Regions from separate parts of the Homo sapiens genome. Here region 1 is linked to region 2. Evidence: fine-mapped expression QTL. Tissue or cell type: atrial appendage. Region 2 holds a variant in brackets; the other region holds the start of a gene. All regions are shown on one strand. Distances are between the middles of the regions.

What was found. PIP is the estimated chance that this variant, and not a neighbour inherited with it, causes the effect.
Region 1: it holds the start of TICRR, and the variant in region 2 is fine-mapped to the expression of TICRR in atrial appendage (GTEx, PIP above 0.99). The same link has a PIP of 0.9 or more in breast, subcutaneous fat, thyroid, tibial artery and tibial nerve.

Annotation. Positions count from the first base shown.
Region 1 is chr15:89,571,095-89,579,232 of GRCh38, reverse strand. It overlaps TICRR (TOPBP1 interacting checkpoint and replication regulator), which reads right to left and starts at 3,764. Exons shown (of 22, transcript NM_152259.4): 1 at 2,993-3,764. The coding sequence starts at 3,646. RefSeq lists an enhancer at 2,837-3,365 and a silencer at 3,487-3,776.
Region 2 is chr15:89,626,731-89,634,730 of GRCh38, reverse strand. TICRR (TOPBP1 interacting checkpoint and replication regulator) reads right to left here. Exons shown (of 22, transcript NM_152259.4): 22 at 6,708-7,775. The coding sequence ends at 7,645. It overlaps KIF7 (kinesin family member 7), which reads left to right. Exons shown (of 19, transcript NM_198525.3): 12 at 848-1,045; 13 at 1,465-1,590; 14 at 1,735-1,911; 15 at 3,021-3,236; 16 at 4,238-4,444; 17 at 5,158-5,356; 18 at 5,609-5,755; 19 at 5,945-6,754. The coding sequence ends at 6,312. Among named protein-coding and RNA genes, the nearest start is that of KIF7, 25 kb to the left of the region's middle. RefSeq lists an enhancer at 4,768-5,967. The variant G/CTG (reference allele first, on the strand shown) is at 4,228.

The sequences.
Region 1 (8,138 bases), 56 kb after region 2:
CCACTAGACTATAAGCTCCAAGAGGGCAGGGACCACATCTATTTGATTCCTTAGCATACCTGGCAGGTATGGAACAAATATGTATTGAATAAATCTAAGGCATAAAGTTGAAAATGTGTCAGAGGTCTCTTATCCTCCATTCTGTCCTATATCTTTGCAAATATGATATCCTGTTTTATGCGCTTGGATCCCTCTGCCTCCAATGTAAGTGCAGGTTCTGTTTCTCCCAGTTCTACTTCCCAGACTGCACGCTCCCCAAGGCAGGACCTGGATTTTCTCTTCCTCCCTTCTCCCTGCTCCTGGACAGAGCACTCCCCAAGGACACAGCCCAAACCTTCCTTTTGCCCAGCATGGCTGGGCAGGTTTTTGAATAGAAAATGATAGATCTTCAGCAGAAGAAAATTCCAGAAAAACTTGAGTATCTGATGGGCATTTTCTTAGGGGATACAGCCGATGTAAGAAGGGAAGCCTCAGAGATGACCCATCCCCTCAGTCGACGGTACATCAGACCTGGAAGGGATCTTTAAAAAGATCCAGTCAACCCACTTATTTCAATGCTATTCAAAAAAAAAAAGAGAGAGAGAGATTAAAGAGAAAAAAAGAGAGACAAAGAATCTCCAAGATCCATCAAGCCCCATCTAACTTATTTCTAGCCAGTATTTAACATAATAAAATTCCAGAAGAAAGTCTTTGATGTGATATCAATTGTTTCCAGCTGAGCAATGTGTTGTATACTGTGTCTAAGGCTTGACTGGCTGCCTTAAATTTTAATATATCTAGGATTTCATTTTCCCCATCAAATGTTTACCATCCCCTTAAACACTTTTTGTCCCTTCCTTTTCTTGACAAACCACTGCTGCCTTATTTTGCATTTGCCACGCCTTTTTTGGGCTTCGCATGTGAAAGCACTTTGAAAATTTTAACATACCATATTATTATTTAAATGCTTGCTCATTTTCCATCTGTAATCTTGCAATTTAACTCACTCCTGGGTTAGTGACATGTATTTCCATTAAGTGGAATCACATCTTTCACTTGGTTAAACCACATTCCAAAGCCTTCCCATTAATTAATTAGAACAAAATCCACATTTTTGACCTTGGCCCTACAGATCGGCCTCTCCTGCTTTCTGACTTTCTCTCACACTGCTCCCCTTGCCTACTAGGTCTCAGCACTCCTTGCCTTTTTGTTTCTGAAACAAACTAAGTTCATTTCCAGCTGAAATCCTTACACCTGCTTGTCTCCTCACCTGGAATGTTCTTTACCTACCTTTGAGTTCCTCCTCCTTCACCATTCAATTCTCTGCTCAAAAAGGCCTTCCCTGCCAGGCACGGTGGCTCATGCCTGTAATCCTAGCACTTTGGGAGGCTGAGGTTGGCGGACTGCCTGAGCTCAGGAGTTTGAGACCAGGGTGGGTAGCATGGTGAAACTCCGTCTCTACTAAAAATACAAAAAAATTAGCCAGGCCTGGTGGCGCCCGCTTATAATCCCAGCTACTTGGGAGGCTGAGGCAGGAGAATTGCTTGAACCCAGGAGGTGAAGGTTGCAGTGAGCCGAGATCACGCCACTGCACTCCAGCCTGGGTGACAAAGCGAGACTCTGTCTCAAAAAAAAAAAAAAAAAAAAAAAAAAAGGCCTTCCCTCACTACCACTCTGTATACAATAACCACCTTCTACTCCCATCCTCTCACCCCATTTTATTTTCTCCAGAGCATGATTTGAAATTGTCACTTGCTTATCTGTTTAATCTGTTCCCTGCTTTGGTTACCATGTCCCCAGCAGCTCAAACAGTGTGGTAGGCACTCAGATGTTACTGGCTTCTCAATGAACATTTGTTGACTAAATGAAGTGCAATGAGAAGGATGAAGGCAAAAGTATATACTTATCCTAGCACTTAACAGGAGCAGGGGGCCTCACCGCCTCAGCAAAAATCCAAATTAGCCATTTAAGACTTTAAGTTTGCAAGAATGTACGCAAGAATGTACTCATTTAGTCAGCCAATACTGACTGAACACCTACAACGTTTAATACACATCTGGGTGGCTGGGCGTGGTGGCTCACACCTATAATCCTGGCACTTCGGGAGGCCAAGGCAGGCGGATTGCCTGAGGCCAGAGTTTGAGACCAGCCTGGGCAGCATGGAACCTGGTCTCCACTGAAAATACAAAAAAATTAGCCAGGCATGGTGGCGTGGGCCTGTAGTCTCAGCTACTTGGGAGGCTGAGGCATGAGAATCGCTTGAACCCGGAGGGGTGGAGGTTGCAGTGAGCCACTGCATTCCAGCCTGGGCGACATACACTGTCTCAAAAAATAATAATAAATAAATATATATATGTATATAAATAAATGTGTATATATATGTGTGTGTGTGTATATATATATATATATATATATATATATATATATATATACACACACACATACACACACACCCCTGGGTATTGTGTTAAAACCTGCTGCTTGCCTCTGAGGTATTTTTAGACTAGATGGAGGGTGAGAGATGTGCATAATCAAAACATATGGAGAAATGGTTAAGTGCCACACAAAATGTGTATGGCAATTCAGACGCTGGACTGAGCAGTTGTCACTGGGAGAAGAAGCCTTAAAGGGTAAGTGAAGTTAAGACTGGCCTGGAAGAGTGAGAACTGGCATTCCAGGCAGATTGAACAACACACATAACACAAAACAAGCAGTCCAGACCTGTTGATTTTCTGGACTGGACTTCAATATGCTAGAGTAGATGTAGTGTGTAGGAAAATCAAGTCTGGGAAGGCAGGTAGGGCCCAAATTGTGAGGGGTCTTAAACAGTAGGTAGTGAGGAACTACCCATTTTGTTGTGAAAACTGTTCCTATTTATTTGTTTCCTTCCGAAGGGACGCATAGTCATATTAGTCTCATTCGGGGTCTGTGGCTGTTCTAAGGACGCTGCCAAGTTCTGGTTAGCAAGGAAAGCACCGTGCACGCCATCTGAGACGACAGTAACCTTCCTTACCTTAGACCATTCGGTGGTATCCACCCAGTAGAAGGTGATTTTTCGGGCGACCATGACTTCCCGGACTCTCTTGGGCAACAACTTCTCCATCACCTGCTTAGGGGTGGGCGGCAGGCGCTGGGCCTGGGCCTCGCACCCAGACACGAACTGCAGCAGCTCCCTCTGCGAGTGCGGACAGGGGGCCAGGAGGAAGACGGCGTTCACCAAGCCCCCGAGCGCGGCCTCGGCCTCCTTGGCCTCGCTCTCCACGTCCAGCAGTCTCCTCCCGCTGCTCCGCAGGATCGGCTTCGTGGGCGACGTGATCTCGGGCCGGTCCCACTGGTAGTCTAGCAGCGTCTCCATCAGGGCGCCGTGCGTGTGGGTGGCCCTGGGCGCCGGGCCGGGCAGGTGGGCGCGATCCTCGAGCCTGGCCTCCAGCTCCTCCTCAAAGTCCTCCCACGAGCGGGACCCCAGCTCGCGGAAGTCAGACACGCGGGACGGCCGGCTCCGCGCCCCCTGCGAGTCAAAGAACTTGAAGGCCCAGTGGACCCTGGCCAGGCCGAATCGGCAACTCAGATAGGTGAGGAGGCGCAGGGCGGCCCGCCGGACCCGGCTGTGGCGGGCGGCGCCGCCCGCGGTGTCCAGCAGCAGCATTACTTTGTGACAGCATGCCATATCGGCCGTGCCGCCGCCCCGGGGCCCCGGTCCGGGCCCGCGCCACCGTCCCTTAGTCCCTTCCTTCAGGGAAACAGCACCACTCACTGCTTTCCTTTGGGACCCTGGTCGAAAGGCTCCCGCGCTCTCCAGGAACTGCTGCTATTGGGGGAGCTAGTTTCCAAGGTTTGCTCCTATTGGCTGCTTGCCTTACGTAAGTTACGAGAGCAACTTCCATTTTTGGCGGTGATTGGAGGGGCAGTGGAGAAAACTTCAGTCTGATTGGTGGAGGGAGTGACGGTGGGCGGGTCTCTGTGGTCCGAGAGAAGCTTAGCATTCATTGGCCTGGGCCTTCGTTTTAAATTTTAAAGAGGTGGTGCCTCGGGGGCGTGTCGAGAAGTTTCGCCATTGGAAAGAGGCCAGCGTTTGTGCGCAGTCGTGAGTGCGGACTGCGGGGCCACGTTTCCCAAGACCGAGGAAAACTTAGTGCCGGGAGGGAATTTGGGATGGTTTGAATCGAACTTGTTGAAATCCCTGTGGACCGCCTAGGAAGTAGAATCTGACGACTACGGCTTTTTCTGTAATTTAAAAAATTTTATTAAAAATTAAAGGTTCACTCCCTTTGCCCCAGTAACTTCTAGGAGTTTATCTGCAGAAGGTAATCGGAGAGCCAGATAAAAGACGTCTGTACATCTTAGAGTTTATTTAACATCAGAAAAAATGGAAACAGTTTGGGAATGGTTAAATAAGGTATGGTACACGCCCAAGGGGAGCATCGTGCAGCTCCTTTTTTTTTTTTTTTTTTTTTTTTTTTTTTTTTGAAACGGAGTCTCGCTCTGTCTCCTAGGCTGGAGTGCATTGACACGATCTTGGCTCACTGCAACCTCCACCTCCCGGGTTCAAGCGATCCTCCTGCCTCAGCCTCCTGAATAGGACTACAGGCGCACGCCACCACCCCAGACTAATTTTTGTATTTTTAGTAAAGACGGAGTTTCACCATGTTGGCCAGGCTGGTCTCAAACTCCTGACCTTGTGATCCACCCGACTTGGCCTCCCAAAGTGCTGGGATTACAGGCGTGAGCCACCAAGCCCGGCCTAGTGCAGCTTCTTAAAATAGTGTTTTATTATGTAATGTTAGGTTTTAAAAGTGGACTGCAAGCAGCACCTGCAGTGAATTCCCTAAATTTTCTATCTACATGTATATATAGATAGAAATCACATGTAGATTTGCATTACAGATAGAAATTATATATCGCTATATAGATAGAATACATAGAATTATATATAGATAGGCCGGGCACGGTGGCTCACGCCTGTAATCCCAGCACTTTGGGAGGCCGAGGCGGGCGAATCACCAGGTCAGGAGATCGAGACCATCCTGGCTAACACAGTGAAACCCTGTCTCTACTAAAAAAAAAAAAACAAAACAAAAAAAAAAGGAATTATATATAGATAGATAATCATAGATAGAAGTTATATATAGATAGAAATGCATTTATATGCATATTTTTAAACTGTTAATATAATATTGTGTACCGGAAGTTGTCTGTGATGGTCTCTCCATGTGATTTTTTTTGAAACTTTTTTACACTTCCTCTTGCTGGACACCAGTGAACAGGCTGATTTCAGAGATGTGAGATGTGCCTCTAGGATCAGTGGAATATGGTATTTGGAAAGAAGAAGGGGACAAAAAATGAAGGTCGGTTACCTGAATATGTGTTTAGGGAGATTGATCCAATACTCCACACCATTGAATTCTGCTTGCTAAGTAATTCTGTTTCCACCTGGAAACAGAACAACTTCCTTTATATGCTTTGGCTACAACTTCCTTTATGTGCCTTGGCTTCTCCAATCAAAGTCCTCAGCAATTACTGCCTCATGTACAACAATTTTCTCTTTTGGTTGAGTTTTCTAGGGCTGCCTGCCATAACAAAGGATCAAACCCAAAAATTGCCTCACAGTTCTGAAGGCTTGATGTCCAAAATCAAAGTGTTGGCATGCACTTGCTCCCCTCCAGCCCCCATGGCTCTAGGGGAGAATCATCCTTTGACTCTTCTAGTTTCTGATGTTTGCTGGCAATTCTTGGTGTTCTTCCTGTGTGTCTTCCCGTCATCTTCCCTCTGTGCATGGCTGTCTCTGTGTCCAAACTTCCCTTTTATAAGGACACCAGTCATGTTGGATTAGGGCCCACCCTAATGACTTTATTTTAACTTGCTTACTTCTACAAGACCCTATTTTCAAATAAGATCACATTCTGGGGGATGCTGGGGGATAGGAGGACCTTAACATATCTTTTTTTTTTTTTTTTTTGAGATGGAGTCTCGCTCTGTCGTCCAGGCTGGAGTGCGGTGGCGCGATCTTGGCTCACTGCAAGCTCCACCTCCTGGGTTCCCGCCATTCTCCTGCCTCAGCCTCCCAAGTAGCTGGGACTACAGGCGCCAGCCACCACACCCGACTATTTTTTTTTTTTTGTATTTTTAGTAGAGACAGGGTTTCACCATGTTAGCCAGGATGGTCTCGATCTCCTGACCTCGTGATCCACCTGCCTCGGCCTCCCAAAGTGCTAGGATTACAGAAGTGAGCCACTGCACCCAGCCAGGACCTCAACATATCTTTTTGGGAGGACACAGCTCAGCTCATAACACCTTTCATCCTTATGCCAGTCATTCATTTCACTCATCCAACAACACTTACTATATACCAGGCACCATTCCTGCCCTAATGGAATTTCCAGTCTAATAGGTAGGGGATCAGACATTAGACAGATAATAATACAGATGAACATAATATGAAAAAAATTTTTTTTCCGAAAAGAGGTTTTTTTGTTTTGTTTTGTTTTGTTTTTTGAGACGGAGTTTTGCTCTTGTTGCCCAGGCTGGAGTGCAACAGCGTGATCTTGGCTCACTGCAGCCTCCACCTCCCGGGTTCAAGCAATTCTCTTGCCTCAGTCTCCCGAGTAGCTGGGAATACAGGTGCCCACCACCATACCCCACTAATTTTTTGTACTTTTGGTAGAGATGGGGTTTCGCCATGTTGGCCAGGCTGGTCTGGAACTCCTGGCCTCAGGTGATCCACCCACCTCAGCCTCCCAAAGTGCTGGGATTACAGGCATGAGCCACCACCCGGTCTGAAAAGAATTTTAAGGGGAAAGTGAAGCATAGGATAAGGGACTACAATGGGTGAGCTGGTTAAGATTTTTGTTTAAACTTTAATGTATTCACATATTGCATTTTGTGACATATTGCATCACAAACCTTACTGAAATGTATATTGTGCCTTGAGGTGTTAAGGGATAAGCAACAACCTAACGCAGTGAGATTTAAACTGAGATTTTAGGGGTAAGCAGGAGTTTAACAATGGCGGGTGAGATAGGGACAGGAAAGAGCAGGGAGGAAAAGTGATTGGGGCATCTTTGAAACACCCAGACAGGAAGGAACATAGAGAGTTTGAGGAATGGAAGGAGGGCAGTGGGGCAGTGGGGCTGGGTGGTGGTGAGCAGGTGGTGGGATGAGAGAAAGGCCAGGGAGGCAGTGGGGCCAGTGAGAGGCTCTGGAGACCACAGAGGTAGCTTGGATATTCTACTGAGAATGTTAGGAAGCCAGGGGAAGGTTTTGAGGACGGGAGGGACTTGATATGATTTGTGTTTGGAGAAGAGCGCTCTGGCTACTAGGTGGAAAATTGAATATGTAGGGGCAAGAATGAAGCAGTGAGACCTGTGAGGACATGCTGCAGACCATGTTGGGGACTGTTTTCCAAAGGGAAGAGCTAACACACAAAGAAGTGCCCAAGGCAATCAACCCACTGGGTGCAGGAAGAAAATATTGAACTTCCGTTTCTCTTATTTTTTATCTGACAATGCACTCATTCATTGGGTACCAGTGTTTTGTGACTACTGCATTTTTCATTAATCTGATTAAATGGATTGAAGGATTATCCAATTGAGTTTTAACTAAAACGAGTCTCAAAAAATGAACAAGTGTGGCCGGGTGCGGTGGCTCACGCCTGTAATTCCAGCACTTTGGGAGGCTGAGGCAGGCGGATCACCTGAGGTTGGGAGTTCGAGACCAGCCTGACCAACATGGAGAAACTCCATCTCTACTAAAAATACAAAATTAGCTGGGCGTGGTGGCGCATGCCTGTAATCCCAGCTACTCAGGAGACTGAGGCAGGAGAATTGCTTGAACTTGCGAGGCGGAGGTTGTGGTGAGCCAAGATCGCACCATTACACTCCAGCCTGGGCAACAAGAGCGAAACTCCATCTCAAAAAAAAAAAAAAAAGAAGAAGAAGAAAAAAAAAAAGAAAAAGAAAAAGTGGCTTTACAAGATTCCTGCTAAGAAGTCGTATGTTGGAAGTTGTATTATTAATATTAACAATACAATCACAAGCAAATCACATGAAAATGGTGGATCTGACATTCTTGTTTTCCTAGTATGAGATCTTTTTTAGCCACACTTTGAGATTAAAAAAGACAATTTGATCAAATCTTACACTTGTGTCCAAGTGAAATGTGGA
Region 2 (8,000 bases):
CTTGCAGTTTGATCTCCGACTGCTGTGCTAGCAATCAGCCAGACTCTGTGGGCGTAGGACCCTCTGAGCCATGTGCGGGATATAATCTCCTGGTGTGCCTTTTTTAAGCCCATCGGAAAAGCGCAGTATTCTGGTGGGAGTGACCCGATTTTCCAGGTGCCATCTGTCACCCCTTCGTTTGACTAGGAAAGGGAACTCCCTGACCCCTTGCACTTCCCGAGTGAGGCAATGCCTCGCCCTGCTTCGGCTCGCGCACGGTGCGCGCACCCACTGACCTGCGCCCACTGTCTGGCACTCCCTAGTGAGATGAACCCAGTACCTCAGATGGAAATGCAGAAATCACCCGTCTTCTGCGTCACTCACGCTGGGAGCTGTAGACTGGAGCTGTTCCTATTCGGCCATCTTGGCTCCTGTGTCCTGTTATTATTTTTTGAGTCAGAGTCTTGCTGTGTTGCCCAAGCTGGAGTGCAGTGGCACGATCCCGGCTCACTGCAACCTCTGCCTCCCGGGTTCAAGTGATTCTCCTGCCTCAGCCTCCTGAGTAGCTGGGATTAGAGGCACCCACCACCAAACCCAGCTAATTTTTGTATTTTTAGTAGAGACAGGATTTCACTATGTTGGCCAGGTTGGTCTCAAACTCCTGACCTCAAGTAATCCGCCCGCCTCAGCCTCTCAAAGTGCTGGGATTACAGACGTGAGCCACCGCACCCGGCCTCTGTTATTATTATTGGTCTATCACCCACCTACCCATTTGCCCTCTATCTGCCTGCCCTTGTTGAGTGCCCAGCACTATGGCAGGCTCGCGGTAGCCCCGTGCATGGCCCAGTGAAGACTGTGTGGGTCCCAGGTGCTGAAGGAGAAGAAGCAGGCTACGGAGCGGCTGGTGTCACTGTCGGCCCAGAGTGAGAAGCGACTGCAGGAGCTCGAGCGGAACGTGCAGCTCATGCGGCAGCAGCAGGGACAGCTGCAGAGGCGGCTTCGCGAGGAGACGGAGCAGAAGCGGCGCCTGGAGGCAGAAATGAGCAAGCGGCAGCACCGCGTCAAGGTCAGGCTCACGGCAGGGTGGGGACCTTCTGTCCAGGCCAATAGGCTGAGCTGGCGGCCCAGCCAGGGGAGCCCAGGCAGGGTTTGCAACCCACAGCCACGTGACCTTAGAAAGCAGGTCACTTAGCCTGAGTCTGTTTTTTCATCTGAAAATGTGGAATGTTATAGGAAACTCAAGGCCAGGGTGAGACTTCAGTGAGATGAGGTATATGAGGTGACTGGCATCTTGTGGGGCTTATTTCTAAGTGTTTGCGTCTATTTGCCGGTCTCCAGGGAGATTTGTGTGGGATGGGTCTGGGGGACACTTCGCAGGGCCCTCTTGGGAGTGGGCAGGCACTCCTGGGGGCTTTGGGATCGGTGGCAGGCTCTGGTAAGATGCTGGCACCATAAACAGCCCTGCCCACTGAGCTCCTCACCCAGGAGCTGGAGCTGAAGCATGAGCAACAGCAGAAGATCCTGAAGATTAAGACGGAAGAGATCGCGGCATTCCAGAGGAAGAGGCGCAGTGGCAGCAACGGCTCTGTGGTCAGCCTGGAACAGCAGCAGGTGGGGCCAGGCTGTGTCCGCACCCAGGGCTCCCCTGGGGGCTGGCTGGTGGGTGCACCTTTCTCCCCAGTGAACCTCGAGTGGCGGCTGACACAGCCAGAGGTGGGCCCTGAGTTCCCTCCCTCCCTCCCTACTTTTCCTTAGAAGATTGAGGAGCAGAAGAAGTGGCTGGACCAGGAGATGGAGAAGGTGCTACAGCAGCGGCGGGCGCTGGAGGAGCTGGGGGAGGAGCTCCACAAGCGGGAGGCCATCCTGGCCAAGAAGGAGGCCCTGATGCAGGAGAAGACGGGGCTGGAGAGCAAGCGCCTGAGATCCAGCCAGGTGAGGCCCTGCCAGGAGAGATCCTGCCAGGTGAGGTCCAGTGAAGTGAGGTCCAGCCAGGACAGATCTTGCCAGGTGAGCTCCTGCCAAGTAAGTTTCTGCCAGGTGAGGTCTAGCAAAGTGAGGTCCTTCCAAGTGATAAACCTGCCAGGTGATGTCCCTGCCAGGCGAGGTCTAGACAGGAGAGTTTCTTCTAGGTGGTATCTCTGCCAGGTAAGTTCCAGACAGAGGAAGCTCTGTCCTACTGGGTTCTATCCTGTGCATCCCCATGAGCTGTAGGGCTTCAAGATATTTATGACACAGTTACAGATGTATGCATAGAAGAACCTCTCTTAAGTGTCCATCCTCCAATTCATTTCACTCATTAACCCCCTCCTCAGGGCCTGTGCAGGAAGAATGAGGAGGCGCAGGTATAGGAAGGTGGTATAGCCAAATAGAAAGAGACTTCTCCGCCTGGCATCATTACTCCATCTAGAATAGGAAGGTCAGCTTCTGAGCCACAGCGTTGTCTTCTGTCAGATGGGATCATAATGTTACCATGATGGCTGGAGGGGGATGGCCGTCATTGATGCAGGGCCTGTTCCAGTACAGGGGCTTGGGCCACACGCCCAGTGTCCTAGGCCCGCAGAGGCCAGGAGCCTTGCTCCTGCCAGCACGCATCACTCTGATGTCCAGGAGGATCCAGGGTCCTACTGGAATGATCCGTAACTTCCCTCCGCCAGGAGAGCCCTCACTTCCTCCCGCATCTGGCTCCCAGAAAGGCCTTTAGGGCTTGGCCAATTCCTATCACTGTCCAGTCCGGTCATCTCAGTGACAGATCATTCCTCCCACCCCTACCCATTGCCTGTTCTTGCCAGGAGGGCCACGTCCCTCTGGTCCTTATCCTCCTCTCGCCATCTCTGAGTGCCCCTCTGCAAATGCTCTGGTCCCTTTAGCCCCGCCTCCTGGAGTCTCTGTGAACTAAGTCTGGTCTCCCTGCTGAGCAGAACATTTGGAGTGTTGGTTTCTTGAGGGAAGGACGCAAGTCCTCCTTAACATCCGGCCCTTTCTGTCCCCCCTGTGAGGACAGTGCCTGTTCCTTCTCTAATCCCTGGTGATTCTGCCCCCAGGCCCTCAACGAGGACATCGTGCGAGTGTCCAGCCGGCTGGAGCACCTGGAGAAGGAGCTGTCCGAGAAGAGCGGGCAGCTGCGGCAGGGCAGCGCCCAGAGCCAGCAGCAGATCCGCGGGGAGATCGACAGCCTGCGCCAGGAGAAGGACTCGCTGCTCAAGCAGCGCCTGGAGATCGACGGCAAGCTGAGGCAGGGGAGTCTGCTGTCCCCCGAGGTACCCTGCGGCCCCATGGCTCAGCCCCTTGGTGCCATTGTATGCCTGTCTGTCTGCTCTCCTCAGCCCTTGCTCCAGCCCTCTGCGGGTGCTGGGCCTTGCTGTCGGCAGACCCAAGTTTTCACTGTTAGGTGGAGGTGGGGGCTGGGGAGGGCTGGCCTGGCCCTTCTGCCCCTGCTTTGGCCTCATTGGCTGGGACACAGGGGCCAGGCTGTGCTGACCTCTCAGCTCTCTTCTGGCTGGAGCCTGGACTCCTGTTCTGTGCTGCATTCGAGTACCTGCCCACACGTCTCGGCTTCGTGTGTGGAGTGTCAGGCGCATACTCAGTGCACCTCATGCCCACACATCTGTGTTCCCTGAGCAGAGAGAAAGCCTATGTGACTATAGTCATGTGCTGTGTGACATTTCAGTGAATGACAGCTCATACAACAATGGTGCTCCCAGAAAATTATAACACCGCATTTTTACTGTGCGTTTTCTATGTTTAGATACACAAATACTCACCATGGTTAACAACTGCCTACAGTATTCAGTACAGTCACATGCTGTCCAGGCTTGTAGCCTAGGTGTGTGGTGGGCTATACCATCTAGGTTTGTGTGAGTATATTCTGATGTTTGCACGACGTCGAAAACGCCTAATGATGCATTTCTTAGAACGTATCCCCATCTGTAGAAGCTTACCCAGCAGACACCGTGGTGCCTCCGTGGCTGTCCCAACCATGCCTTTTGTTTGGTTAGGGTGCTCTGAACTTCCTGAATGTAGATCATTCACAGAGGCTTGCAGTTGAGCAGGCCACCTCTGAGCAGTGCCCCCAGCTCACCCTGGGGTTGGGGCTGTGACAGTGAGCAGGGGGCACCTCTCTCGATGGGCTGACTTGGCCCTTGGGACGAGGGGACCCTTAAGGCCCAGTTGTGGCTACGTGTTGGCTGTTGCATGTCTGCCCAGGACTTCAGCATTCAGGCAGTGGGTGCTGTTCCTCCACGCGTGCCC[G/CTG]TCTCTGCAGGAGGAGCGGACGCTGTTCCAGTTGGATGAGGCCATCGAGGCCCTGGATGCTGCCATTGAGTATAAGAATGAGGCCATCACATGCCGCCAGCGGGTGCTTCGGGCCTCAGCCTCGTTGCTGTCCCAGTGCGAGATGAACCTCATGGCCAAGCTCAGCTACCTCTCATCCTCAGAGACCAGAGCCCTCCTCTGCAAGTATTTTGACAAGGTGGGCCAGCAGCCCATGGCCCCCCAGCTCCTCCTCAGCGGCACGTGTGGGGAGGTGTCTCATGGCAGCTGCTCCAGCGGATATCCCGTTTCCTCCCAGACTGGGGGACAGAATCAGGACCAACTCATCTGCAGGGCCGCCTGACCTTAAAGCCTATTTTACTTGTGAAACTAAGACCCAGTTTCCTACCCGCCCCCCACTTCTGCTCTGATTGGCTAACCTCAGGGTGGTCCATGGCCACAATAGTAGCTCTCAGTAGGGGAAGTTTTTGCCCTTTTGTGACATTTGGCCATGGCTGGAGATACTTTTGGTTGTCACAGTGGTGGGGGTGGAGGCCAGGGATGTTACTAAACATCCTATAACACACAGGACAGGCCCCCACAACCAAGAATTATCTGGTCCCAGATGTCCATAGTGCTGAGGTTGGTCTAGATGAAATCCCACAACTTGACGCTCTGCCCAGCTCCATAGTGTGTGGCTAGGAAAGGGTTTGTGGCAGAGATAGCAGATAAGGTGAGAGCCAGCTCTGATCGTTGGAAGATAACTAGAGCACTGCTGAGGTGTCTGAGGCTGAGTCTTGGCTCAGCAGGGAAGACCCTGGTGATTTCTTAGTGCCGTGGTGGCAAGTGTGCCAATACTGTGTCTGTGATTGAGGATTAGCTGGATGAAGAGGGGTCATGATGAGGGCTGAGCCTGGCTGGGTCTTGGGACAGGTGGTGACGCTCCGAGAGGAGCAGCACCAGCAGCAGATTGCCTTCTCGGAACTGGAGATGCAGCTGGAGGAGCAGCAGAGGCTGGTGTACTGGCTGGAGGTGGCCCTGGAGCGGCAGCGCCTGGAGATGGACCGCCAGCTGACCCTGCAGCAGAAGGAGCACGAGCAGAACATGCAGCTGCTCCTGCAGCAGAGTCGAGGTGAGCAGCCCGGCCCATGGCTCACAACCCCGGCCCCCTCCATCCCCCCCACCCCCATCTTCCCCGCCCTGCACCCCCCTCCCTCCCCCCACCGCCCCTGCCACTCACAGCCCCTGCACCTACAGCCCTGGTGGCCCGGCCCACCGCTCACAACCCCGGCCCCCACCCAGCCCACAGCCCCCACCCCCACAGCCCTGGCCGCCTGCCCCGCCTGCAGCCCTCACCACCCTCTCCTCGACCTTTCCACTCTAGACCACCTCGGTGAAGGGTTAGCAGACAGCAGGAGGCAGTATGAGGCCCGGATTCAAGCTCTGGAGAAGGAACTGGGCCGTTACATGTGGATAAACCAGGAACTGAAACAGAAGCTCGGCGGTGTGAACGCTGTAGGCCACAGCAGGGGTAACTCCTCGTCGCGCTCTGAAGTCAGACCTGTTCCCTTTCTTTGGGGAAAGCTTAGAGACCACTCTCCCTCGAGCCTTTATTGGCTCAATTCACAGGTTGCTTATTGTGCTGGGGCACTGGGGAGCTAGGGCTTCGGGAAGGTGTTGCCACCTGTTTCTGATGAGGACACGTTACTCTCCATGACAGGTGGGGAGAAGAGGAGCCTGTGCTCGGAGGGCAGACAGGCTCCTGGAAATGAAGATGAGCTCCACCTGGCACCCGAGCTTCTCTGGCTGTCCCCCCTCACTGAGGGGGCCCCCCGCACCCGGGAGGAGACGCGGGACTTGGTCCACGCTCCGTTACCCTTGACCTGGAAACGCTCGAGCCTGTGTGGTGAGGAGCAGGGGTCCCCCGAGGAACTGAGGCAGCGGGAGGCGGCTGAGCCCCTGGTGGGGCGGGTGCTTCCTGTGGGTGAGGCAGGCCTGCCCTGGAACTTTGGGCCTTTGTCCAAGCCCCGGCGGGAACTGCGACGAGCCAGCCCGGGGATGATTGATGTCCGGAAAAACCCCCTGTAAGCCCTCGGGGCAGACCCTGCCTTGGAGGGAGACTCCGAGCCTGCTGAAAGGGGCAGCTGCCTGTTTTGCTTCTGTGAAGGGCAGTCCTTACCGCACACCCTAAATCCAGGCCCTCATCTGTACCCTCACTGGGATCAACAAATTTGGGCCATGGCCCAAAAGAACTGGACCCTCATTTAACAAAATAATATGCAAATTCCCACCACTTACTTCCATGAAGCTGTGGTACCCAATTGCCGCCTTGTGTCTTGCTCGAATCTCAGGACAATTCTGGTTTCAGGCGTAAATGGATGTGCTTGTAGTTCAGGGGTTTGGCCAAGAATCATCACGAAAGGGTCGGTGGTAACCAGGTTGTGGTTTAAATGGTCTTATGTATATAGGGGAAACTGGGAGACTTTAGGATCTTAAAAAACCATTTAATAAAAAAAAATCTTTGAAGGGACAAATGGGAAGTTTTCACTTAGAGTTTGATTTACAAGACAATAGGAGGAATCAGATTTGGGAACACAACAGGCTTGAACACTTTCTGGAGACTGAGAGACAGTTCAGAGTCAGCCCTCACCGTTAGCCAGACCCCTGGCCAGGACCCGCAGCAGGCTGGTCCAGCGGGTCTGTGGGGCACTCCTGTGGGGCACTCTTGGTGGAAACGATGAGCCAGGTGATGGTCTCCCCAGGAGTGGGCAATGGGTGAGGCCTGAGCCCTGAACTGGCTGGCTCTTGGACAGTCCTTGAAAATGTGGCTGCTCCAGAAGCCACTCAAGCTGGACCATGGTCACAGTTAACCTCAGGCCCAACATTAAACAAAAATGTACTGAGTGCTCAGTCACTAGAGATGATTTTACTGTTACACAGGGAAGGCAAAAAATAGCTTCCACTGCCCAATGCACTCTTCAGTTTCACGTATATGGCTTCACAGTTTACAAAGCGCTGCCTGTGTCGCAGCAGCCCAGCCTTACAGCAGCTCAAGGGACCCCAGGGAGGGCGCCTTTCTCCATTTGCATAAATGAGGCAGAGTGGCCCCCTGACTTGCCAAGGTCATGGTTGGGGTGAGGCTGGAATGGGATTCCTTGTCTGGGTTCCTGACTCCCAGGCTGCCTGAGTTATAGCACCAATCACATTGCCATCCACCTCTCCTCCTGCAACTTCCCCAACAAGGGGCAGGGCCAGGAGATGGATTGGATCCATAAGGGGAATTAGAAAACCCTAAGGCATTCTAATGGCAATCTGAACACTGACCATGGCAAAAGAGGCTTGGGACCAGGCATCCAACTTCTTTATGTCCACAGGGTCCTGGCTGACTCCTTGATCTTTTGGGCTCAGTAATGTTTGTGGCTATAAGTCCTCCAGCCAGGTTCCCATGAGCTTCTTCCGTGTATAAGTTCTGCTGATGGGGCGCCTCCTGGAGAAAGCGCGACTGAAAGGAGAGTCTTCTACAGTGGAGGGAAGAACATCCACATCCTCATCTAGAAGAAGGTAGAAAGGCTTAGCATGCAGGAGTCACAGAGGACCGAACTGAAAAAAATTGGCTTAAATTGCAGAGGGTTACACACAAAAACAGACTTTAAGAAAATCAGCACTGCTTGGAGGTTCGCTTATCCTACAGAAATGGTACCTACACTTTTTAGAAGGACCCTGCCCTTAACAGCTATGCACCGTGCTGGCAGCAAGAAGCAGCTCTGAAAATGCAA